4 linked regions of the Homo sapiens genome follow. The protein of the gene in region 4 purifies or fractionates together with the protein of the main gene of each other region. This does not show direct contact. Each region holds a gene or a part of one and is shown on either strand. Other genes may lie near its edges.

The links.
Region 1: the proteins of VAPA (region 4) and OSBPL10 purify together in Homo sapiens (co-immunoprecipitation; 5 studies listed by BioGRID and IntAct, with this or other methods). This does not show direct contact.
Region 2: the proteins of VAPA (region 4) and RAB3GAP1 purify together in Homo sapiens (affinity purification with mass spectrometry; 5 studies listed by BioGRID and IntAct, with this or other methods). This does not show direct contact.
Region 3: the proteins of VAPA (region 4) and LSG1 purify together in Homo sapiens (co-immunoprecipitation; 5 studies listed by BioGRID and IntAct, with this or other methods). This does not show direct contact.

Annotation. Positions count from the first base shown.
Region 1 is NC_000003.12:31,660,325-31,663,298, reverse strand, and holds the end of OSBPL10 (oxysterol-binding protein-related protein 10), read left to right. Parts: exon of another isoform or gene 1-1,176; intron 1,177-1,182; coding exon 1,183-1,227; 3' UTR 1,228-2,474; downstream 2,475-2,974. UniProt on the Homo sapiens protein: Probable lipid transporter involved in lipid countertransport between the endoplasmic reticulum and the plasma membrane.
Region 2 is NC_000002.12:135,047,351-135,055,313, reverse strand, and holds the start of RAB3GAP1 (rab3 GTPase-activating protein catalytic subunit), read right to left. Parts: upstream 3,023-7,963; 5' UTR 3,007-3,022; coding exon 2,989-3,006; intron 2,885-2,988; coding exon 2,829-2,884; intron 1-2,828. UniProt on the Homo sapiens protein: Catalytic subunit of the Rab3 GTPase-activating (Rab3GAP) complex composed of RAB3GAP1 and RAB3GAP2, which has GTPase-activating protein (GAP) activity towards various Rab3 subfamily members (RAB3A, RAB3B, RAB3C and RAB3D), RAB5A and RAB43, and guanine nucleotide exchange factor (GEF) activity towards RAB18.
Region 3 is NC_000003.12:194,662,160-194,669,195, forward strand, and holds part of LSG1 (large subunit GTPase 1 homolog), read right to left. Parts: intron 4,414-7,036; coding exon 4,293-4,413; intron 4,131-4,292; coding exon 4,044-4,130; intron 3,485-4,043; coding exon 3,398-3,484; intron 1-3,397. UniProt on the Homo sapiens protein: Functions as a GTPase. May act by mediating the release of NMD3 from the 60S ribosomal subunit after export into the cytoplasm during the 60S ribosomal subunit maturation.
Region 4 is NC_000018.10:9,931,016-9,938,051, forward strand, and holds part of VAPA (vesicle-associated membrane protein-associated protein A), read left to right. Parts: intron 1-794; coding exon 795-947; intron 948-5,094; coding exon 5,095-5,198; intron 5,199-5,970; coding exon 5,971-6,051; intron 6,052-7,036. UniProt on the Homo sapiens protein: Endoplasmic reticulum (ER)-anchored protein that mediates the formation of contact sites between the ER and endosomes via interaction with FFAT motif-containing proteins such as STARD3 or WDR44.

The sequences.
Region 1 (2,974 bases), on a different chromosome or scaffold from region 4:
GTCTAGTTGTTCATGAGGAGCCAGAAATCTAAATTTTTATGAGAAATCTCATATTTGCATGGTCAAAGATTTAAAAAAATTTAAATACCAGTAGGCAATCAAAATGTATCTGTGGGCTTTCCTTAGCCCAGGTGCTGGTAACCCCTGACTTCTGCTACAAAGAGGGATTATTCTGTCTATATACGAGGCTGAGAAGTGAGTTAGGGCAACATAGTAGGTAACTGGGGTGGATTCATGGTTAAGAGCAGGAAGAGCAGGAAGCCACCACTGTTCTCCCCAGAGTCAGGCTGTGGACTGAAGGAGATTTCAAGGTTGGATTCTGGTTCAGACAGGAAAGCTGCCTGGAGAAGACTTTGCCTTTATGGGTCACTGAGTGGGGACCCTGTGTGGGAGCCCTGCCCAGGTGAGGTAAAACCTTGAAAGATCCTTCTGTGAGGTTAGCTCCCTTTTCTCTTGAGGGAGCTAGTAGCTTGAGAGAGCTAGTTTGTCTGGCTTCTGTGGAAGGCTGTGCATTAAACAGCAACAACAACAAGAAAAAACATTTACAGTTCTTCCTGAGTTTAAGAAAAGCCAGTATGCCCATAACAGAAGGGCTGGGAACATGTAAGGAATAAGAGTCATCTGAACACCAGCACAGTTATTCAGTATAGTGCCTTCTAGTCATAACTAGATGGTATTAATACCATTTTAATTCTTGCCTTTTTCTCACTTGATATTTGATTGATGGTGTTTCTTGTGTGTGCTGATTTGTTTGTGACTACTGCCTGCTGGAGAGAGCCTTTGTTGGGTGTTCCCCTGTGGGCTGGAAGTCACTGGTATGCACACCCTTGCCTTTTCTTTCCCCTGGCCATTCATCTAGCTACTCTCCTTTTCTCTTGTCCCACTGTCAAAGTGCTTCTTTTTTTTGGCCAAGTAATCAGTCTCGATGGAAGCCAACCAAGCTCCCCTTTTATTTTGCTCATTTCTTGGGGTTTCCTCCTGCCATGCCAGGGTAGGAAGGTCAAGGTCATCTAGATCTCCAAAGAGCAGCTGGGCTGAGGAGGGGTACTGAGGCCAGCAGCCTGGCCTGCGTGTGAGGTATTAAGACACGGCAGACACACAGAGTGGCTGCGGTTATCCTTGCTTCCCCTTTTCCCTGTTGAGAGGTCTCCATGTAATAATGCCTCCTTTCTTCTCTTGCAGGGCGATGGCTGGGTATACTTCAATCCCCTCTGGAAAGCACACTGATGGGGTGGAGGTGCAGAGCTTTCCAGTATAGCCCTGTTTTTGTAGGAATATTAAAGTAGTAGAGTATCAGGGTTTTGTTGGCATTCACTGAGACCTTGTATTAGCATCCAAGAAATGATGAGAGAGAGAGAAATTATATACTATGAAAAGTGCACCCCCACACTCTGCTAGAGGAATGAATTTATTCAAGAGCCATTCGGGGCACGTGTGTGTACACACCGTATACGTTCACACACATGCACTATGTAAACATCTGAGTATGATTACACATTTAAATACTGCACTCACCAAGGTTAAAGTGGGTAATCATAAGCTCCTTTTTATCAATGAAGTTTGAAGTTTTTCTATTTTTCACTTTGCCAAAAATGTTTTACACTCACAAAGATATTCTCACTTAGTCAACTCCTGTCAAAATGAAGGTGAACTGGCATGGCCCGATCACTGTCCATAAGGGAGAAAGTGGCTCATTCCTGGTAGAAGTATGGGTGGTTATCATTTCAAAATTATTGTGATTCTCACCTCCCTCCCCACCTCAGTGTTTTGTCTGTCCGCGCCCAAGAAAGATAAGCAAGTATTTCCTGCTGGATGGGGGTTGGCAGGAAGCTGTTAAAGATTTATGCCAGAGCCTTGCAGGATGGAGCACCTCTGGGACAACTAAGAGCCAAGGCCCACCAAGGAGTTTTCCACCCGTCTCTCATGGTCACAGCGCTAGTCATTCATTTTTGAGAAGTTGCTTCTTTTACATCAGAAAACCAGTCAATCATATGGAGACTTCTTTTGTGATGAAAAAGGGCTTTAGAAGTTAAATACATGCATGCACATGAAAACATGCACAACCACAGCCTCAATCTTGTATTTAGTTTGGGGAAAGAGAAGAGAATTTCCTGTGGATTATTTTTTCCTCAAGTGCACCTCTCTGGTTAACCCAAACTCTGCAAGAAAGCACTGTGACTAAAACATACATAACGCCTGCATAAATATTCCATGGTTTCAGTTAAATTTCAGTTTTTAGCCTTTACACATGAGGTCAAAGGAGTGACGAAAATACAAAGCAAGGAAAAAATGAAATATCTGGTTTTTGCTGAATGCTTAATTTATTTTTTACTGTGCCACTCCAATATTTATCAAATCCAAATAGCATGAATGCTTCTCTGTAGTAATACTAATTTTGTGCCTTTTGTCTGCTTTCTTAAGACCAGTTGTTCACACTTTGTAGATATTAGACAAATATATTTCGATTGAATACATATCTGTGTCTGTGTTTTATTTTCAGGGATTCAACAGTTCTATTAAATTGGTGGCTCTAAGTGAGCTCAACTTTTCCTGGTTAAATATTTCTAGTTATTGATATGAAGAGCAATCATATCTATATGGAAAAAGTATTTAACACATTTAAAAATGTACCAGATAAACATTTATGAATATTTTCTGGTAAGTCCATAAGAACATTTAACTCCTACCCAGTGAGTGTTGTTTCACGAGAAGAGTCACTGCCAGAAGTCACAATAGAAGCCTACTTAGGTCCACAGTCTTTAAAGCATCTGGGTGAATCAAGTATCTGGAACCATCTTATTTCTGACAGAGAAAGTGGAACAAATGCTATTTTGAGAAAAAGAAGAAAACTCAACTCAATGAGACTGAAAAGTAATCACTGTGTTGTTGGATTTTCCAGTCTGACTACAAAGCATAAACCATCTGGGAAGTAAAACATGGAGAGGGCTCACTTTTCTTTTGAGGCCAGGGGTAC
Region 2 (7,963 bases), on a different chromosome or scaffold from region 4:
TTGAGATTTGACTAGAAAAACTAAGTAATTTTTTCCTTAAAAGCTCTCAGGAAATGAAGGGTCATTTCCTGATTCCTTATTCTATATTAGGTCCCTCTGTTATAGGCTCTTATAAGACCAGGTTTCTTTCCCTTTCTAGCTCTTACATAAACTCATAATTACAGACTTGTATTACTTGATTTGTGTCTGTAATGCACTAGACTGCACATTTAGTAAAAGCAGAAACCGTACCTGTTTTACTAACCACCACATCCCTAAATCCGTAATGTGCACTGTGCTTGACATATGGGGATTCAATAAATATTGTCAATGAACAAATGATAAAAAGAGTTATGGGCTTCTATACAGTTCTCTCAATAAATTATCTATATAGTTCATAACATATTGTACTCACAAGATCTTTCATTTAAAATTAAACTCAAGGTTTGAGACTTCAAAGTCTTAACATTTTCTCTCATGAATTGTAAAATGCACACTACAGTGTAAAAGCCAAAAACCAAATTTTCTACTTTGCAATAGTTCTTATAACGGTGTTAATAATTATTTCCATATGCAAAGCTAAAGGACTTAATATTCCACTTCAGGATATTTTTAACTAGGGGAAAGTGATCATTTTTCCATTCAAAACTGATGTTTCCCTACCCCACCCTCCAAGATTTGAATTACATTTTTCTAACTACCTTCAAGACATCAAATTATTTCAAAATCAACAGGTTCAAATCTTCTCACTTTGACACTTCCTTACATTCATTCTTACAGGCAAAAAACTACAGTTCACATTTGATTTTTCCCACTTTTAACGTATCATCAAGTTTATTACCTAAATCTTCTCTGAAATATGTTACAATCCTCCCTTCTAGGTTCCCTTTGTATTCCAGTCCACAAATCACCATCCTAATTATGAATCAAGTTAAGTCTCCCACCATTATTCTACATCATGTCCTAAAACCACTTTCATCATATCACCTGGCCACTCTAAAACGAAGGGTCTCTCACTATTGTCTTAAGCAGTGGTTCTTTCTAAGTGTGGTCTCCTGACCAGCAGCATCTGAATTACCTGAGACCGTGTTACACAAGCAAAATTTTCAGTCCCACCTCAGACCTACAGAATCAGAAACTCTGAGGATGGGGCCCAGCAATCTAAGACTCTGATGTACATTAAAGTATGAGAATCACTGGTCATAGGAATACTGAATCTGGATTCCTGTATTTAGTTTGGGAAGATGTCCATAACCCAATCCCGTCTTCCTTGTTAACCTTATTTATTTCCCTTCAATAGACAGTCTTCACTCTAGTGAAGATATATTTCTTCATTCAGTCCCTTCAAAGATTCATTCTCACCTATGTCTCTACCCATGTCAGTCCATTCTCATGTTTAACCAACCACTTCCCACTTTCAAGGCCCAGCTCATTTCCTATCTTTTCTATGAAAATATCTCCAACTATTGTAGTCCACAATATCACCCCTATTTAAATAATAATTATTTTAATTATTATTTTTACAGGTAGTACCAACTGGCTTACATTTTAACTATTTGCTGTTTGTTGTTTTTTAAAAATATATGGGTCAAGTTTCTGCTTTTCCCTTTGTATATAGCTCTGGACACCCAGTACCTACTCAATGAAGTCTTGCCAGTGTGGTTATGTCTTACTGACACTTTTATGAAGGGTACCACAGGTCTAACTATTATTCCAACAAGGACCTTTTATATTTTCCTGTGCCACCTAATGACACGACATCCACAAATTTCCTCTCCCAACCAGAAAGATTATAAAATGCTGTAACAGCGTAAACACTGACTTCAACACCCAGGAAACTGAAGGGTTTCTGTGACACTTAACAGAAACCTTCTCGATCTAAGCTATCACTCCTCCACAAACTTGGCTTTCAACTAATTTCAGTAATAGAACAGTTTCACCCAGACAGCTGTTCATCTGAATTTGACAGGCACAGGAAGCCTGGGCACAGTACCCACTTTAATGTAACAACTTAAATCAAAGCATTCCAAAACCATATGCAGACTTTTTAAAAAGGTTATTCTAAAAGACAGGATGGGCGGAGGCTCACGCCTGTAATCTCAGCACTTTGGGCGGCCCAGGCTTGAGCCCAGGAGTTCAAGACTAGCCTGGGCAACACAGCGAGATCTTTAAAAAATTAGTTGGGCGTAATAGCGCGTGCCTGTGGTCCCAGCTCCTCCCGAGGCTAAAGCGGGAGCTTCACTTGAGCCTAGGAGTTCGAGGCCGCAGTAAGCTATGACCTCGCCACTGCACTCCGGCCTGGGCGGACAGACTGAGACTCTGTCTCCAAAAATAAATAAAAATAAAAAATTAAAGACAGCATGGAGATGGTGGGAGTGTGACAGATGGACAACTACCAATACTCTGAAGAAAGACTTCCTCCTGAAAAGGGTATACCAACGTACACGGGATGAGGTGCGGCACAACCTACCAAGTTTACTGCTTACGATAATGAGTTAAACGGTAATGAAAACCGGAACGGTTGTTGCAGCCTCGGAAATTTTTCTTGCGAGTGGGTAACAACCAGAAAACCAAAGTCTAAGGGAAGCGGTCTGACAGGAGAGAAAACAAAACTTTCTGAGAGCCTGAGCCTCAGGGATTGGCTGACGGGGGCGGGCCGGGTGTTGCCAGACGCGAGACGCGGAAGAGGCTTGCGGTTGACCAAAGAAGACTGGGGGAGGAGACCCGGGACCCACGGTATTACCGTTCCCGCACAAGTGGCGTCACTTGTGGTGTGTCTGGGGTCAGGGAAGCGGCTAGGGGACGCCAGGGCCCATGGGAGCTGGTAACCAAAAATGCGATTCACTCACCTTTCCCATTCCGAGGCAGTGGTGAAGTCCGTGATCTCAAATACCTCGGATTCGGGCTGCGGGAAGGGGAAGGAGAGAAAAAGAAATTAAGCCCCAAGGCGAAGACATGAGGAACGAATTTAGATAGTGACAAGGATTAAGTAGGGAGCAAAGAAATCACCTCACTGTCGGCAGCCATCTTGAGGAGCGCCGGGCCTGGCGCTAAGGCTGCCGGGAAGAAGAGCGAAAGAGAACGGGGCGCGTCCCCGCCCCCGGAGCCCCCGCCCCCTGTTCATGAGTCTTGCCCTAGTAAGTAGGAGTGCTGCTTCTTCGCCCAGGTCTGTTAAGTCTTTAGTCCGCCCTCAGCTGGTTAATAAAACTCCGCTCTAGCTGGTTTCATAAAACTTGAAAATTTCCTGTGATGAATACAGAAAGGGAACAGAAGCCAAGGTGATAGGACAAGACCCTAAACTCATGTGGATAAGATTGTATTAAAAAACCTAAAGCATGTTGGGTTTGTTTTCATTCAACCCATATTTGTAGTTAGTACCAATTAGCTTACACTTTAACTATTGGGTTTCTTTTCATTCACCCTCTATTTATTGATTGTAAGGCAATAAACTAGGTGCTGTAATACCACTTCTACCCTCTGCCCCTGACCCTGCAAGAAGTTGCTCAGTTGATTGTCCTGAAATAAAATCATACTAGTTACCTGGTTTCTGGGAAGAGCAACATGGTGTTCAACAAACGCTTCATTTTTTTTTTTTTTTTTTTTTTTTTTTTTTTTTTTTTGAGACGGAGTCTTGCTCTGTCGCCCAGGCTGGAGTGCAGTGGCACGATCTTGGCTCACTGCAAGCTCCGCCTCCCGGGTTCACGCCATTCTCCTGCCTCAGCCTCCCGAGTAGCCGGGACCACAGGCGCTCGCCACCACGCCCGGCTAATTTTTTGTATTTTTAGTAGAGATGAGGTTTCATCGTGTTAGCCAGGATGGTCTCGATCTCCTGACCTCATGATCTGCCCACCTCGGTTCTGTCGCCAGGCTGGAGTGCAGTGGCGCGATTTCGGCTCACTGCAATCTCTGCCTCCTGGGTTCAAGTGATTCTCATGCCTCAGCCTCCCGAGTAGCTGGGATTACAGGCATGCGCCACAACACCCAGCTAATTTTTGTATTTTTGGTAGAGATGGGGTTTCACCATGTTGGCCAGGATGGTCCCGATCTCCTGACCTTGTGATCCGCCCCCCTCGGCCTCCCAAAGTGCTGGGATTACAGGTGTGAGCCACTGTGCCTGGCCTTGTCTTTATTTTAACACCTTCAAGTTATTTATATATATTCTGCATCTGAGCTTTATATTGTTTATATATGTAGCAAATACCTTCTCCCACTCTGCAGCTTGCTTTTTCACTATTTTTTTTTCAGACTGGTGCTCTAAAAAAGCAGACACTACAATTCCAAGCTGGCGAAGTCTCTGAAGTCCAACTGGAAGTGCTAGGGCAAAAATTATGCATCAGGAAATGCGTAGCCCCTTGTACTACTGCCTTGCTCCGTCAATCATTGGCCAGGATCTCCCCAAGAAAACAGTGGCCTTGGCTATCACTGTTTGCTCAGTTTTTGGCTGGAGGAAGCACTCCAAGAATAGCAGGTCCTTGGCTCAACAGTTAGACAAACCTGATAAACCCAACAGCCGTAGGCTGTTCATCTAACCACACGCCTTACAGCTGGGCAGTGAGTCTTTCTTTAAGGGAGGTCTGAGCAGCACATCTTTTGTGTCTGCCACTCTCTTTTAATAGACAGCCTCTTTTAACATGCACCTACAATGTTTTCGACATCCTGTGCTTTCTCTTTCCTCTGGACATGCTGTCGTTTAGAATCTGCAATGTCCTTGTGTCTATAGTTTACCTGGTAAAATTTGTCCTTCAAGTTTCAGCTTGGATATTTGCTCTTCTGTGAAGACTTTCTCTGCCCCCTGTTAGGAGCTTATTTGTATTTGCAACCAGTTTGGTGGTAATCGATTGGATTCTCACTCAAAATTCATATGTTGAAGCCCTAACTCCTAGTACCTCAAAATGTGACTGTATTTATGGACAGGGTGTTTAAAGAGGTGATTAAGTTAAAATTAGGCCGCTAGAGTGGGCCCTAATCCAATCTGACTAGTGTCCTTATGAGAAGAGATTAGGACACCAGGGATGTGCACACACAGAGGAAAGGCCATGTGGGGACACAGAGAGTAGGTGGCCACCTGCAAACCAAGGAGAGAGGCCTCAGGAGAAACCCAACCTGCTGATACCTTGGTCGTGGGCTTCTAGTCTTCAGAGCTGTGAGCAAATAAAAAAATATTTTTTTGAGATGGAGTCTTGCTCTGTCACCCAGGCTGGAATGCAGTGGTGAGATCTTGGCTCACTGCAACGTTCACCTGCCAGATTCAAGCAATTTTCCAGCCTCAGCCTTCTGAGTAGCTGGGATTACAGGCATGTGCCACCACATCCAGCTAATTTTTGTATTTTTAGTAGAGACAGCATTTCACCTTATTGGCCAGACTGGTCTCAAACTCCTGACCTCAGGTGATCAACCCTCCTCGGCCTCCCAGAGTGCTGGGATTACAGGTGTGAACCACGGCGCCCAGCCCTGTGAGCAAATAAATTTTTGTTGTTTAAGCCTTCCAGTCTGTGGCATTTTGTTCAAGCAGCCCTAGGCAAACATACATCCCCCACCCTCAACCCAGGAAGTCAGACACTCCCCTTCCATGCTTCCTTAGAGCTTTTGACACAGCCCTAGGGCAGCCTGATATTGTCCTTGTTTTGTATGCCTATCCCTCCACTATTTCTAAACATTGAGTTTCTTGAAAAAGAGAATGGTTTGAATGACTCTATCTCAAAATGAGAGACAAAAGGAGGATTCCTTTTTTGTTTAAAGACAGGATGTCTTTCTGTTTCCCAGGCTGGAGTGAAGTGGCATGATCATAGCTCACTGCAGCCTCAAACTCTTGGACTCAACCAATCCTCCTGCCTCAGACTCCTGAGTAGCTGAAACTACAGGTGCCCACCACCACGTCCAGCAATTTTTTCTATTTTTTGCAGAGACATGGTCTCACTATGTTGCTCAGGCTGGTCTCAAACAACTAAGCTCAAGCAATCCTCCTACCTTGGCCTCCCAAAGTGCTGGGATTACAGGCGTGAGCCACTGCGCATAGCCAGAAGATTACATTTTTTGGGGGGGGTGGGAACGGAGTCTTGCTCACTCTGTCACCCAGGCTGGAGTGCAGTGGCACAATCCCGACTCACTGTAACCTCCGCCTCCTGGGTTCAAAGCAATTCTGCCTCAGCCTCCCGAGTAGCTGGGATTACAGGCACTAGCCACCACACCCGGCTAATTTTTTTTTTTGAGATGGAGTCTTGCTCAGTCGCCCAGGCTGGAGTGCAGTGGTGCGATCTCGGCTCACTGCAAGCTCCGCCTCCCAGGTTCACGCCATTATCCTGACTCAGCCTCCCGAGTAGCTGGGACTACAGGCGCCTGCCACCACACCCGGTTATTTTTTTTGTATTTTCAGTAGAGACGGGGTTTCACCGTGTTAGCCAAGATGGTCTCGAACTCCTGACCTCGTGATCCACCCACCTCAGCCTCCCAAAGTGCTGGGATTACAGGTGTGAGCCACCACGCCTGGCCTAATTTTTTTATTTTTGGTAGAGATGGGGTTTCACCATGTTGGCCAGGCTGGTCTGGAACTCCTGACCTAAGGTGATCCACCCACCTCAACCTCCCAGAGTGCTAGGATTACAGGTGTGAGCCACCACATCTGGCCAGGATTACTTTTTGAGAAGCCAATTTAAAGATTCATGGATTGCAGACAAGCTGGAACCCTAGGATAACCTGGCAGAAATCCTAAAAGTCAGAAACTACGGTACTTGCACCTTCCTCTGTTAGGCTGAGAGAGTACTCACCTTGATGGGAGTAGAAGCAAAGTAGAGCATAGGAAGCAAAACAGAGTAATAGCCTGTGTGTGCTTAAATTGGTGTCAAGCAGCTTGAAGTTGAATTGGTAATGAGGGAGTTTACGTAGATCTAACAATCTCTGAATGGTTTTTACCCTGAAGTCTTCATCCACTAAAGGAGAGAGAGAGAGAGAGAGAGAGAGAGAGTGTGTGTGTGTGTGTGTGTGTGTACGTGCTTGCGCATGGTAAAGGTAGTATTGCAACATTGTGGCCAGGCCGCTTAGGTTCAATCCCTAGCTCCACCATTCATTAGCTCAAAAGTTCTAAGCCTCAGTGTCATCTTCTGTAACGTGGCAATGATGCTGTTTATTGTTTCAACTCCATAGAGTTGTTATGAGGGTTAAATGACATTAATCATGTCCTTTATGGACTAACGTAGGAACTAGTCAATAAATGTCAGCTGTTGTTATTGCGATAGAATATCGTACCCCATTCAGTTGAGAATATATAATGTTACGCCCTACCTTAGAAGAGAAACCCCTGCATCCTTTGGTAAGTGGCAGAAAAGAATTTAGCAGCACACAAATGCCGGGTGACCTTATGGAGTGCCCTGTGTCCACTTCCTCATGATTATGTTTTCATAGTCCATGATTTGAAGTCTTTTGCAGTTGGGTTTATTACCACTGGACTCAGACAAAAATGCAGTCTGTTTACTGAAGCTTTTGCTTCAGAATATCACAAGCATATCTAGAGAAGAAGTATGTTGTAATGTAAGGATTTCTGTCTGCTAGCGCTTTCTCAAGGCTGAGTCTAAGAATGCAATCAGTTTGGTGGTAATCGATTGGATTCTCACTCTGTGACCTATATGCAGCTTTGAAAGGGGCCCTTCTGGCACCTTGTGGGGATTACAAAGGCATGGATCTCTTAGAGAAAGTCTCAGTGCATCAGGTGATCACAGTAATTGTGCCAACCATGGAAGTACATAGGGGTTTGGTAGTTTTAAAGCACTTAAGCAACAACTTGGAAGAGCATACAAAACTTGTTTTCCTTCCTGGATGAGACTGTCCTGCTTTCAATTCTCTAAGCTAAATGCACAGTGGATGGTTGCCTAGGAGACAACCTGTAAACTAAGCAGTCTATTTGCAGCTAACTAAAGGGTTTGTGCATGCAGGACCAGCTTAATTAAAGACAAAATTTAAAAGGAAAAATTATTTGGGCTGTACAACACTG
Region 3 (7,036 bases), on a different chromosome or scaffold from region 4:
GTAATCCATCTGAACAGTGAGCTCATAGGTCGGCTACCCTGTTCCATTCAGTGAGGCAACTGCAACCCACCACACAGCCCCCATTCCCCACCCCAATAGCAGAAGGCTAGGGTTTATTATGGAGAAAATGAACTTGACAAGTTCCAGGACTGGGACCTCAGGCACAGGGAAAATGGGAAAGAGTTGCCATAGGGCAAAAAGGGGAATTCAGCATAAGCCTATGAAGATACTGAACTGTGAAGGTGCCCAGCACCCTTGTATTATACCACCTCCTGCCCCTTTCCTGGCAGGAGATCATTCTTCTTTTTAAAAACTGACTGGCACTGGGCACAGTGGCTCATGCCTGTAACCCCAGCACTTTGGGAGGCTGAAGTGGGTGGATCACCTGAGGTCAGGAGTTCGAGACCAGCCTGGCCAACATGGAGAAACCCCGTCTCTACTAAAAATACAAAATTAGCCGGGCGTGGTGGCGCGTGCCTGTAATCCCAGCTACTCGGGAGGCTGAGGCAGGAAAATCGCTTGAACCCAGGAGGTGGAGATTGCAGTGAGCCGAGATCACGCCACTGCACTCCAGCCTGGGTAACAAGAGCGAAAGTCCGTCTCAAAAAACAAAACAAAACCACACACACACAAAACTGACTGGCTCTGGGGAAAAGACCTACAGATCTTAACATCTTGGGGTATTCCAACAAAATAAAACTGACCCCTGCCCAGGCACCCTACAGTGAAGCTCACCAGTTGGCAAATTCCACCTAAACAGGCAGGCTTGTCAACCGGCTTTGTAATGCTTTGTTCTTAAAGACAGATAAACACCACTAGACACCTGAGGAAGGCCTCTTCCGTAAAAGTCAGAAACCAGGAGAAAAAGAAAAGGAACAAAGAGGAAAGACAGATAATATAGGAAGTAGGACAAAATCTGAAAACAAAACAAAAACTGTAATTAAGTGTGAAGATGGAGGGTGCTGTCCTCAAGGTCCGGGCTGCAGTACTTCTGCACTTGTTACCATTTCTCTTCGGAAATTAGAAAACGGGCATTCTCAGGAGTACACAGCATCAACTACCAAGGAGGCACCAACGAAGAGGCTACTCTGCTCCACAGCAGTTCCCCAGTTCCCCAGGAGAATGACTGTGGGCCTTCCGAAGCCCTCCTCAAGCTTGAGTAAAAGGAGCCTGCATGGACCCCAAATCAGCAGAAACCCTTTCCCTTCTTCCGCCTCAGAGAAAGCCTTTCCCTTCTTCCGCCTCAGAGAAAGCCTTTCCCTTCTTCCGCCTCAGAGAAAGCCTTTCCCTTCTTCCGCCTCAGAGAAAGCCTTTCCCTTCTTCCGCCTCAGAGAAAGCCTTTCCCTTCTTCCGCCTCAGAGAAAGCCTTTCCCTTCTTCCGCCTCAGAGAAAGCCTTTCCCTTCTTCCGCCTCAGAGAAAGCCTTTCCCTTCTTCCGCCTCAGAGAAAGCCTTTCCCTTCTTCCGCCTCAGAGAAAGCCTTTCCCTTCTTCCGCCTCAGAGAAAGCCTTTCCCTTCTTCCGCCTCAGAGAAAGCCTTTCCCTTCTTCCGCCTCAGAGAAAGCCTTTCCCTTCTTCCGCCTCAGAGAAAGCCTTTCCCTTCTTCCGCCTCAGAGAAAGCCTTTCCCTTCTTCTGCCTCAGAGAAAGCCTTTCCCTTCTTCTGCCTTAGAGATTTGCCTTGCTTCTCTGACCTCCCCGCATCCCAGCCCAAGAGCCCTTTCTGTACCCGTAGAGAGCTGAGGATGGGGGCATTCAAGTGACTTTGTCATCACCCTAATAGGAAATGTAAGTGACTTTTACAAGTTTAGTCCAAGTACTGTTTTCTTTTTTTTGGAGACAGAGTCTTGCTCTGTCACCCAGGCTGGAGTGCAGTGGTGCGATCTCGGCTCACTGCAACCTCCACCTCCTGGATTCAAGTGATTCTCCTGCCTCAGCTTCCCAAGTAGTAGCCAAGCCTGGCTATTTTTGTATTTTTAGTAGGGACAGGGTTTCACCACGTTCCTCAGGCTGGTATCGAACTGCTGACTTCAAGTGATCCACCTGCCTGGACCTCCTAAAGTGCTGGGATCACAGGTGTGAGCCACCGCGCTGGGCCCTGTTTTCTTAATAACAATGCTAAATGTGATAAGATTCTTTTCTGAGAATCCCAATTAAAGCATTCTGTTTCCTAGTGTTCTTACTAGGTTCACTTTATAGATTTCAAAGGAAAAAAAACCAGCCTGAAGGGTCCTTGTTGAAAACATTTCAAATATAAGGTTCATTTATGGCATCCTTGAAAGTAATTCAGAAACTCTTTGAGGAAAACAGAAACCTTTTAACTATACCAAAGAGGTGAGATTAGAGACAGGTGTTCATCAACTTCTAACAATCAGGAATTCTCCTTAGCATTACATGAAAAAGAATAAAGATCTCCCATTCTCAATTTGTCAAAATCATTCTCTTCTTTTCAGAGCCCAGTTAAAAAAAATAAAAACCAGGCCGGGCATGGTGGCTCATGCCTGTAATCCTAGCACTTTGGGAGGCTGAGGCGGGTGGATCACGAGGTCAGGAGTTCGAGACCAGCCTGACCAACATGGTGAAACCCTGTCTCTACTAAAAATACAAAAAAAAAAATTAGCTGGGCGTGGTGGTGTGCGCCTGTAATCTCAGCCACTTGGGAGGCTGAGGCGGGAGCACTGCTTGAACCCAGGAGGCGGAGGTTGTGGTGAGCTGAGATCGTGCCATTGCACTCCAGCCTGGGCAATAAGAGCAAAACTCCGTCTCAAATAAATAAATAAATAAATAAATAAATAAAAAACATAAAAACCACCCCGTGATTTCCTCAATACTTATCAACCACTCCTTCCTCTGCTATGACTCAGCCCACTGCCTTTCTATCTGCAGCAAAGCAGGAATCATACTGCCCTCTGTATTTCACTACGTATTAAGTTTTCTGAGTGCAAGAATTGCATGTCATTCATCTGTGTGTCCCTGGTGCCTGGTGCTTTGCTTAGCATTTAGCTGAACATGGTGTAACTCGGCTGACAGGAGCTCTGACATTCGCCTCTCCCCATAACATAGATGCTCTTTGCAGGCAGGAACTTAACTCTTTTTCGTATCCATATTTTCCACATTACCAGTAGAAACCAAATATACATTTGCTAAAATATCTATATAGGTGCTTCAGAATTCACCTTGCAGAAAATGTTCATTATTCTCACACACTTATCAACATATTCATCTAACAACAAAAAAACTATACAAAATATACGGTAGTATCATGCTGTGTTTTTATAATTCTCAGTAACCCTCTGCATAGCTTAATTCCCATACCCTGAGCCTATAAGCCTATATCAACAGCCAAATCGAATATAACTTCACTACAATGTCTTTATTACACAAAAGAAAATGATAATTCACCTTCTCTCAATGACTCTCCAGAGCTGGCGCCAAAAGTCCAAATTTCGTTCAAATGGAGTCAATATCAGCTTCTGTTCCTCTTCTAGCCTAGTTTTTGAATGAGAAGTTTATATATTTGCCAGATTATAATAGACAATTTTTAGCAGTGTAAATGCTCAAATTTATTACATTAAAAATAAGTACTGGGCACAAATATCCAGAGTCAAATTATTTTATATATTTCCTGCTGAGACACCATAAAAATACTATTTATTTAGACAATACTCCACCAAATTCAAATTTTATCCTGAAGCTATTTATGCCCTGGAAGTTTACCTATCACACAAAGTCATTTCTTTCCCACACTCTTACTGGAAAAATGTGCAGGAGAGCAGCGATCAACTCCAGGATGCCCAATGGCCAAAGAAGGGAATGAAAGGAAAAGGCCCGGAACTGAGCAGAGTAACCAACTCACGATCTCTGTGCAAGGATGCATTTGCACCTAGCAATCTTGTTTGTGCATACATCTATTTGCACTTGTTAGCAGAATGCTACCATTTCCTTCTTAAAAGAATCAAAACTTCAAAACACAAATGGCTGTGTAAGCATGCCAAATATCTGAACTCAGGATTTCAAAGTAAGTCTTCATAGAGTCTATAATACTCACCGGACAAGCTGACGTCTCCATTCTAGAAAGTTATCTTTCTCTGCTTGTTTGAGTTCTTCTGGGGTAGTATTTTGGTTCCAGTTTGGTCTGAAACAATCATAGAAGGAAAAAAATTCCTCATATAAGTAACCAAAATAAAATAGGTAATTTGGATCTAATAATGGCAGCTGAGAAAAAGAAGCAATTTAAAAAATGAATACTCAGCAGCCTCGGATGTTTTGTGGCATTCTAAATTCTTCTTCAGCTCACCTCCTCGGTATACACAAGAACTGTTTGTTTTCTTCATGGAGCTTCTTAATTCTCTGGCTCTCCTCGAAAGACAGTAGTCCAGTTCTAGCCTCAGCAGGCACAAACTTAATATTAAGTTTCTCTGTTCAAATAAAGAAAAGTACTATTACTTAAGAGGCAGTATAGATACAGAGTGTTTGGTCATACTGATAAACTGAGAAAACTAAAAATGAGAGCCTAAGAGAACTTAAGATTTCTTGATTTAGATTCTTCTAGCCTTGGGTAAATTATTATTCCCAAATGAAGTTTTATACCAAATAACTATCCAGAGTTACTACATTCTTTTTGACTGCCACACAGTATTTCATACTGTGTCTATATCACATTTTCCCTGCTATTGAACATTCAGTTTCCAAGTTTTCATTATTAAAATACAGCATCATCTGGTAGCTTGTTAAAAATGTAAATGCTGCAGCTCTAACCCCCACTCACTGAATAGATGCTCTGGAGTCTAGAGGATAGGGCCAGGAATCTGTATGAAAGAGTTCTCCGGGCAATTCTGCTGCTCTGGGGTAGATGCTGAGAAGTAGAGGTGCTGGCTCATAGGATATGAAACTGTAAACTTGCTTTCTTTGTCTTCTGTTTTTTTTTTGAGACAGAGTCTCACTCTGTCACCCAGGCTGGAGTGAAGTGGCACAGTCTCGGTTCACTGCAACCTCAAACAATTCTCCCAACTCAGCCTCCTGAGTAGCTGGGACTACAGGCCCGCACCACCACGCCCGGCTAATTTTTGTATTTTTAGTAGAGACGGGGTTTTGCCATGTTGGCCAGGCTGGTCTCGAACTACTGACCTCAGGTGATCCGCCCGCCTCGGCCTCCCAAAGTGCTGGGGTTACAGGCATGAGCCACCGCACCCAGCCTGCAACTGTAAACTTCGAACAGATACTGCCAAAACAAATCTTTCCAACTTCCCTCTCTACTGTCTCACCCCATAACCTAAGAACATACTACCATTAACCCTGATCCTTCTCATACACACCCTTACACTTCTCTTTCCCTGCCATAGTCAGCTATCTCAGGAGAATACAACTTGCTCATTCCTTGATTTCCTCACCTCCCACTTCCTGTTTCTCTAGATTCCAGCTGTGGCTCTCTCACTCCACTAAAACTGTTCTGGCAGATATTACTAATGACTTTAAGAAGAAAATAGCAGCCAGGTGCGGTGGCTCACGTCTGTAATCCCAGCACTTTGGGAGGGCAAGGTGGGCGGATCACAAGGTCACGAGTTCGAGACCAGCCTGGCCTACAAGGTGAAACCCCCGTCTCTAGTAAAAATACAAAAATTAGCCAGGGGTGGTGGTGCATGCCTGTAATCCCAGCTACTCAGGAGGCTGAGGCAGGAGAACCGCTTGAACCTGGGAGGCAGAGGTTGCAGTGAGCTGAGATCGCACCACTGCACTCCAGCCTGGGCGACAAGAGAGAGACTCCGTCTCAAAAAAAAAAAAAAAAAAAATATATATATATATATATATATATATAGCTTTACTACAATATGATTCACATACTATACAATCCACCCACTAAAGCATACAATTCAATAATTTTCAGTATATTCACAGAGTTGTGCAGCCATTGCCACAATCCATTTTAGAATATTTTCATCACTCCAAAAAGAAAGCTTTACCCATTAGCAGTCACTGTACACCCCCAGGTACCTGGTGGAAATCATCTACTTTCTGTAGATTTGCCTCTTTAGGACTTTTTGGTGTTTCCACTTTTTGGTGATTACGAATAATGCTGCTATGAATACACATGCACATATTTTTGTGTAGACATGTTTTCATTTCTTTCGGGCATATACCCAGGAGTGGGACTGCTGGATCAGATGGTAATTCCATGTTTTACCTTTTGAGGAACTGCCAAAATTTTTTTATAAAACAGCTACACCATTTTATACTCCCACAGCGATGTATGGTGTTATAATTTCTCTACATCCTCACCAACATTTGTTATAGTCTCTTTTATTTTAGCTATCCTAGTGGGTGAAGTGGTTATTTCACTGTGAAACCCAGGAGTTTATTTTTGTCCCTTCACTCTTTTTCACTTACACTACCCTCTCCATCAAGTCTGGTTTACTCTAGCTCCTTAAGTGTTCTTGTTCCTCTTATTTTCTCCCTTCTTCTACTACCTGTATTTCAGTTCTGGCCTATTTTGCTAGACTAAAGTGATACAGTCTCCTAACTCATCTTGCTTCCTTAAAATTCATCAGTGATCTTTTAAAAAATGAAATCTCATGTACCCATGAGACATACCTGCACTCCCATGTTCCCTGCAGCGCTATTCACAAGAGCCAAGATATGGAACCAACCTCAATGCCCATCAACGTATGAATGGATAAAGAAAACGTGGTATATGTAGTATACAATGGAATACTATTCAGCATTACAAAAGAGGGAAATGTTGACACTTGTGACAATATGAATGAACCACTCTGCTATGAGAAATAACCCAGGCACAGAAAGACAAATACCACATGATCTCACTTATACGTGGAATAAAGCCGAGCTCATAGAAGCAGAGAGAAAATGGTGGTTACCAGAGATTAGGGAGTGGGGCAAATAGGAGGATACTGGTCAAACGGTAAAGTTTTACTGAGGCAGGATGAATAAGTTCTGGAGGTCTAATGTACAGCCTGGTGTCCATAGTTAATAATAACACATTTATTAGTTAATAATATGAAATTTGCTAAGACAGTATATATCTTG
Region 4 (7,036 bases):
GCTTTTTTAAAAAATACATAACTTTAAACGAATTGTTTTTAGAACGATTTAAAATTACTTTTGGAATACTTAGAACTGTGGTTATTGTTCCCAACTGGAACATGTTTTTATGTTCTTCCTCCAAATTAACAGGTATTTATTTTGTTGTCTAAATTAATCTGCATAATTTTTCTTCAGGCTTTTCTTCAGCAAAATGGATCAGCCTTTTGGGTTCTTTGTTTTGTAATTTTATGTTGTTTGGGTGCAGAACCAAAGCTTAAAAACTTTGTATCTAGAGCATATGGCATAATAAACACTTAACAAATATGTGAATGAATGAATGGATTGAATGAATGAACAAACAAAATTGAGGTGAAGCAAAAGCACTGATGTCATAGGGTGTAGGGTCTTCAGATGTAGAGATTTTTGCAGTTGGCCTAGTAAAATGAACTTGAAGATTGACACTGGTTTGCAGACAACTGGGAAATTCTGTTATTTTCAGCAACGTATTAACAACATACTGTAAAAATACAGTTGTAAAGTTCATAGATCCAAAGTTTCATAGTACTTTTTTGATAGAAATCATACATGTTTATGGTAGAAATTTTGTGAAATACAGGGAATGAAGAAGAAAATATGACTTGTTTTTAAGTCTGCCACCTCGAGAAAGGCAGTGTTAGTAGCCATTTGGGATATTTATGCCTACAAATGTCAGCACTTAATTAAAATTGAGGTTATATATTTTCAGTTTTGAATCCTTCGTTGTTGAGAATCCAATTAAATTTTGTTTTCTCTTTAATTTTTAAACTTTACAGGCCCCTTCACAGATGTAGTCACTACAAATCTTAAATTGCGAAATCCATCGGATAGAAAAGTGTGTTTCAAAGTGAAGACTACAGCACCTCGCCGGTACTGTGTGAGGCCCAACAGTGGAATTATTGACCCAGGGTCAACTGTGACTGTTTCAGGTAGCAAATCATGTTCTGAATTTATGTACATTTGAATTTTGACCTTTTATGATTATGTTTTTGTTTAATAAGGTTTCATCTGGAGGGAGGGAAATAATTCTTATATTATTCTGGTTTTGCCTTTAAAGATGTCTTGTTACAGTACTCTGCAAGCTGTTTCAGAAAATTTCTCACTCATCTTCTGTGTAGGGAGTGTGGTCAGTTTATAAGAAATTATTGTCAATTACAAACTTTAGTCTTTATTTCTACAGCTAACCACTACCTTCTCTGCCTTTGTTATTTTATCTTTGAAAAATTATATCATTTTTCTGATGGGTCATTCTCCTTCAGATCATGATCATATTACACATTGCATGCAGCTATAGAAGTGTCATAATTCTTTTGCTTAAAAAGGTGCAATGCCACTTTTTTGCCTACTGTGTCAAATCAGATGAGTCTTTATGCCTTTCATTGTAAATGTCAACAGTGTCCTGTGTGTGAAAACTTTATTTTTATTTTACTACTCTCTTATGTGTTTACTTGTCAAAGAAGTATGCTTGCCATATATGGATTACTTACTCCTGCTGTGGAGTTGATACTGGTACCATATCTAATGCCCCCTATAAACTGTTTCTTTCTTTCTCAGTCCCTCTGACTTCACTAATATAGCTGAGAAATAGGAAATAGGAAGTAAATATGAGAACTTTTATGGTTCCATGTATTTTACTTAGGGGAGAACCTCTCAGGCTGCATTTACTCTTTCTTTACAGCAGTACTTCTCAACTCCCACTATATGCTGTAATAACACAGGGAGCAGGAACACACATGGATTCATCTCTCCCAGATTGGAATCTCTAGGAGCATGACTTAGAAATGTTACATTTAGGCCGGGCGCGGTGGCTTATGCCTGTAATCCCAGCACTTTGGGAGGCCGAGGCGGGTGGATCACGACGTCAGGAGTTCAAGACCAGCCTGGCCAAGATGGTGAAACCCCATCTCTACTAAAAATACAAAAAATTAGTCGGGTGTGGTGGTGGGCGCCTGTAGTCCCAGCTACTTGGGAGGCTGAGGCAGAGAATTGCTTAAAACCAGGAAGTGGAGGTTGCAGTGAGCGGAGACTGCACGAGTAAGACTCCGTCTCAAAACAAACAAACAAAAAAAGTGTACCTTAAAAAAAAAAAAAGCCTGGGTGATCTTGATAAGTAATCCTAAGATATTATAATAATTCTGTATCAGTTTTCAAGTCCACAGCAGAATTGGGTACAGAGAGAGAGAACCCAGGGTAGGCTCATTGAGAGAGTATTTAGAGGTGGAGCCTGACTACAAAGGCCATGAAGGACAGACCATAGAGTTCTTGGTGACACTAAATCTTCCCTCAGCAGGTATAGCCAAAAACCTCAAGAGCTAGGAAAAAGATGTTTTAGTGAGTCTTGCGGTAAGGAGGCCTGGGAGGAGTGCTTTTCATGTTTCTTTGCTAAGTCTAATTCATCAGTTCCTGGGAAAGAGAGATGGGAAATAAAGATGAAGGAATGCATGCACTCTGCATGTTGCTGCTTTCTACTACATCTTTAAGCCTTTAGCACAATTGGAAGAAGAGAGAATTCTTTCTTTTTTGAGACAGTGTCTTGCTTTGTTGCCCAGGTAGGAGAGCAGTGGTGTGATCTCAGGTGACTGCAACTTCCGCCTCCTGGATTCAAGTGATTTTCCTGCCTCAGCCACTTGAGTAGCTAGGATTACGGGCGTGTGCCAACATGCCTGGCTCATTTTTGTATTTTTAGTAGAGGCAGGGTTTCACCATGTTGGCCAGGCTGGTCTCGAACTCCTGACCTCAAGTGATCCATCTACCTTAGCCTCCCCAAATGCTGGGATTACAGGCGTGAGCCACTGCGCCTGGCCAGAAGATATAATTATTTCAATCCACATGGCTAAAAATAGTTTATTGGTACAAACAGTTATATCCCTAGGAATCCATACAACTATGCAGAATGACTTTTTCTTTGAGGGGCCTAGATTGCTGGTTTCTGTGTATTAATATTTCTTGAGAAAACAACGTATCAAAACACTTTCTCCCACAGAAACCTGACTTATTAAAACCTTCAGACAAACTGGTTACTGATTACGCAAACATGCCCTTGGATTGTTCTACTTAATTAGAATTTGGCTTTTCCAGTTTTTAGTGTAGTGTATTTCCATTTACAGTCACTCAAAGCTATGCTTCTTCCAACAACCTTCTCTGGTTAATTCTCTGTACTACATGCTCATTTCTCTTTTTCCCTGTGTCCTTTTGACGCTTTGTTTTTTGAATTTGCTTCAATTTGTGCACATTTTTATATATGTTTTCAAGATCGTCTTTGTCTTGTTATGTGGTCTGCAACCTAAATTAGAGTATAACTCCTATAAACTTAACCATGTTGTAAGTTTTCGTTTTATTCACAAATTTTTGGTTCATAGTGATTAGCTTATAATCATTAACTCAGTGAAGGTTGCTAATGGAATTTTATTTAGCTTAAGCTGTATTCTGAGGCATTTTATCCAGTACATTTCCTGCTGCTGTGTATTTGGCCCCTTGAAAAAGTTGTCTTAACCTTGATAGCAGTTAATGGACTTCTCAGACACACCTTATGAATAAGACTTTATTACATAATTATTTCTTACATTTATTTACCCGTGTTTATCTTTTTGAAAGTGTAGAGATATATCTTAGAAATAATCTAAAGTTAGGGAAATAATTTCTATAATGCCATGTACATATTTTGTGTAACTGTTGATTGATTCTTTGTATAGTCTGTTATATTGGACTCATGTTACATAAATTTAGCATGACTTACAACCACATGGAACCTTAGAAAACTTAAAAGACGAGAAATTATAAATGCTTAAAAATTGCTCACGCCTGTAATCCCAGCACTTTGGGAGGCTGAGACGGGCGGATCTTGAGGTCAGGAGATCGAGACCATCCTGGATAACACGGTGAAACCCCGTCTCTACTAAAAATACAAAAAAATTAGCCGGGCATGGTGGCAGGCGCCTGTAGTCCCAGCTACTCGGGAGGCTGAGGCAGGAGAATGGCGTGAACCTGGGAGGCAGAGCTTGCAGTGAGCCGAGATTGTACCGCTGCACTCCAGCCTGGGCGACAGAGCAAGACTCCGTCTCAAAAAAAAAAAAAAAAAAACTTAAAAATTTTGAATGTTATTGAGACTGTAGAATAAATTTTAGAACTCAAGAGGCTATATGGTTTCCTTGTGTACTTTTGTTTTCTTAGAAGATTTAAATAAATTCATAAACTCTGAAATAGATGTTTATTTAAAATACAATTTTGAAAAATTAATTATATTAAAACAATATATGGGCTGGGTGCTGTGGCTTACGCCTGTAATCCTAGCACTTCGGGAGGCTGAGGAGGGCGGATCTCTTGAGCCCAGGAATTCTATACCAGCCTGGGCAAAATGACGAAAACCCTTTCTCTACAAAAAAATACAAAAATTAGCTGGGCATGGTGGCATGTGGCTATAGTCTTAGCTATTTAGGAGCCTGAAGTGGGAGGATTGCCTGAGCCTAGGGAGGTTGAGGCTACAGTGAGCTGAGATTGCGCCACTGCACTGCAGCGCAGCCTCAGCCACAGAGTGAGACCCTGTTTTAAAAAACAAAAAACAGATGGTAGTGAGGTTTTAAGTTACTGAGTATTTCTCCTTTAAATATCTCAGTTGTATAATTTTAAATCAGAAAACACTAAAATGAAGCCTAAATTCATAGTTTTAATAACTTATATTTAATCTGAGCTTATAGGCATTATAGTTAACGTTGGCAAAGTTTTGAAAATTTTCACAAGCTGAGTTTAGAAAGGGCAAAATCATAGATTCATATTTAATTTTTAATTGTAATTGTTTATTTTGTTGGTTGTGCAAAACTTAGTAAATTAGAAAGACAGACAATTTAAAAATACTTGGGATCCATTAAGTTGATTCTTAAACATTCCAGTGTTTGGTTTCTTGAACCCTTCTTGGTTTTTTTTAAATTTGCATATTTGTGAAGTAGTAGGAATGATACTATTGCCAGATACGGTTTAAGGCAAATCCCAGACTTAGTATAATTTAATCTGTAACTGTTTCAATGTATGTCTTTCAGACATGCAGGAGACAATATAATATATCCTTTTTTTCTTATTTAGTAATGCTACAGCCCTTTGACTATGATCCGAATGAAAAGAGTAAACACAAGTTTATGGTACAGACAATTTTTGCTCCACCAAACACTTCAGATATGGAAGCTGTGGTAAGTATAGAAGAAGAATTTGTTTTGGGAAGTGGAGTTTAAACTGTGGGTGTTGTTTAGCAGTCAGTAGAAAAACTTAATTTCTAAAAACTAAAAGTTAAATTTAGGTTTTTAAAAAACTGCCAATTTCTTCATTATAGATAATCCTAACTTAAAGAATGAAAGAATTTTTAAATAGTATTTTTTTTTAGAAACAATTTAGAAATGCTGCTACTGGCCTGGTGCAGTGGCTCACACCTGTAATCCCAGCCCTTTGGGAGGCCAAGATGGGAGTATCTCAAGCCCAGGAGTTCGAGACCAGCTCAGGCGACATGACAAGACCCTGTCTCTACAAAAACAAACAAACAAACAAACAAAAAACAAAAAAAACCACCACAACAAAAATGAGCTGGGTATAGTGTTGGACGCCTGTAGTCCCAGCTACCCAGGAGGCATGGGAGGATTGATTGCTTGAGCCCAGGAGGGGCGACTGCACTCCAGCCTGGGAAACAGAATGAGACCAACTGGAAAAAAAGAAAGAAATGCTAAGAAGAAAGTCCTATGGTTGCTAGTAATATCATCGTGATTTTAATGGATGGTGATAGTAACTAGGATTATATAAAGGTTCTGTGACATTAGCCGATAACAATGGCAGGGTGATCAATAAAGAGTGCACCAGTGTGTTTCAGCCAAGCCAGGCAGCTTCACTCATCTTTTAGCTGTCCCGTGAGGTGAAACTTACTTACCATGATCATACCTCCTATGTCTCATGTTTGGTTTTGTTTATTTTTAGTGGAAAGAGGCAAAACCTGATGAATTAATGGATTCCAAATTGAGATGCGTATTTGAAATGCCCAATGAAAATGATAAATTGGTAAGTAGGAGAATGTAAAAAAAATTGGGAGCTGTTGAGCTCTCAGTTCCTTTGATTAATTTTGCTTTTATTTTTGACCTTTGAGGTATGTGTGATATGGCTATTACACTTCATAAGACTCAGTGGTTAAGTTTTAAAAAACTTGGTATGCCTTTTTTTTTTTTTTTTTTAAAGTAACATTTTGTTTATCCAAGAAGAAAGAAAGACTCACTTTTAGGTCAAGACTGCATCCTGGAGAAGAATCATTTAAGTCTACCAGATTTTTTGTGACGTAAACCACTGCAGGTTCTTTTTTAGAATGAGATGTGTATACATAATTTAAAAATACATATAAATTGCTTTTTGGCCACTATGTACCGGCAGTTTGGGGATAAATTCACTTACATGGACAGTTTATTCCAGGTTTAGTTATTCCTAGGTATTTTGCTCACTTTTGTTTTTAGTCAAATCCATCTGATTGTATTCTTTAGTAAATAATTATTATGTTGCTTACTCATTAGTGTAAGTCTAATACAATTTGGGGGACTGAGGGATGTATTTGTTTATTCAAAAACAAACAAAAAATAGTCTGTGAATGTACCGAGTGGGTTGTAGTCACTTACCTTGTCCATTTCCCTGTCTGGATTGCAAATTTGAATCTTTTCCTATGGTGAGAGAGACTTGAAAGATAAATTTTTCTGTGTGTGTATGTGACTTAATACATACAATAATATGGATAAATAGAATGGTGTGGCACAATTTGGTTACAATCTGACATGACTACTGCCTTAATCTAGTGGCCATTTGCTCTATTGAAAAGTAAACATGCAGATTAAATATGTGGGCTCAGTTATTGTGTTCCTCTTTCAGGATAAGCAGAAATGAAAAGGTCTCTGGTAATTAGGTGTTGACCAAATTATATTTTGAATTTTTAAAATGCCTCTTTTAAGTGATTTTTGAGGTATTTGCCAAAAGCAAAAAATTGTGAACACATGTATTCTCTGTG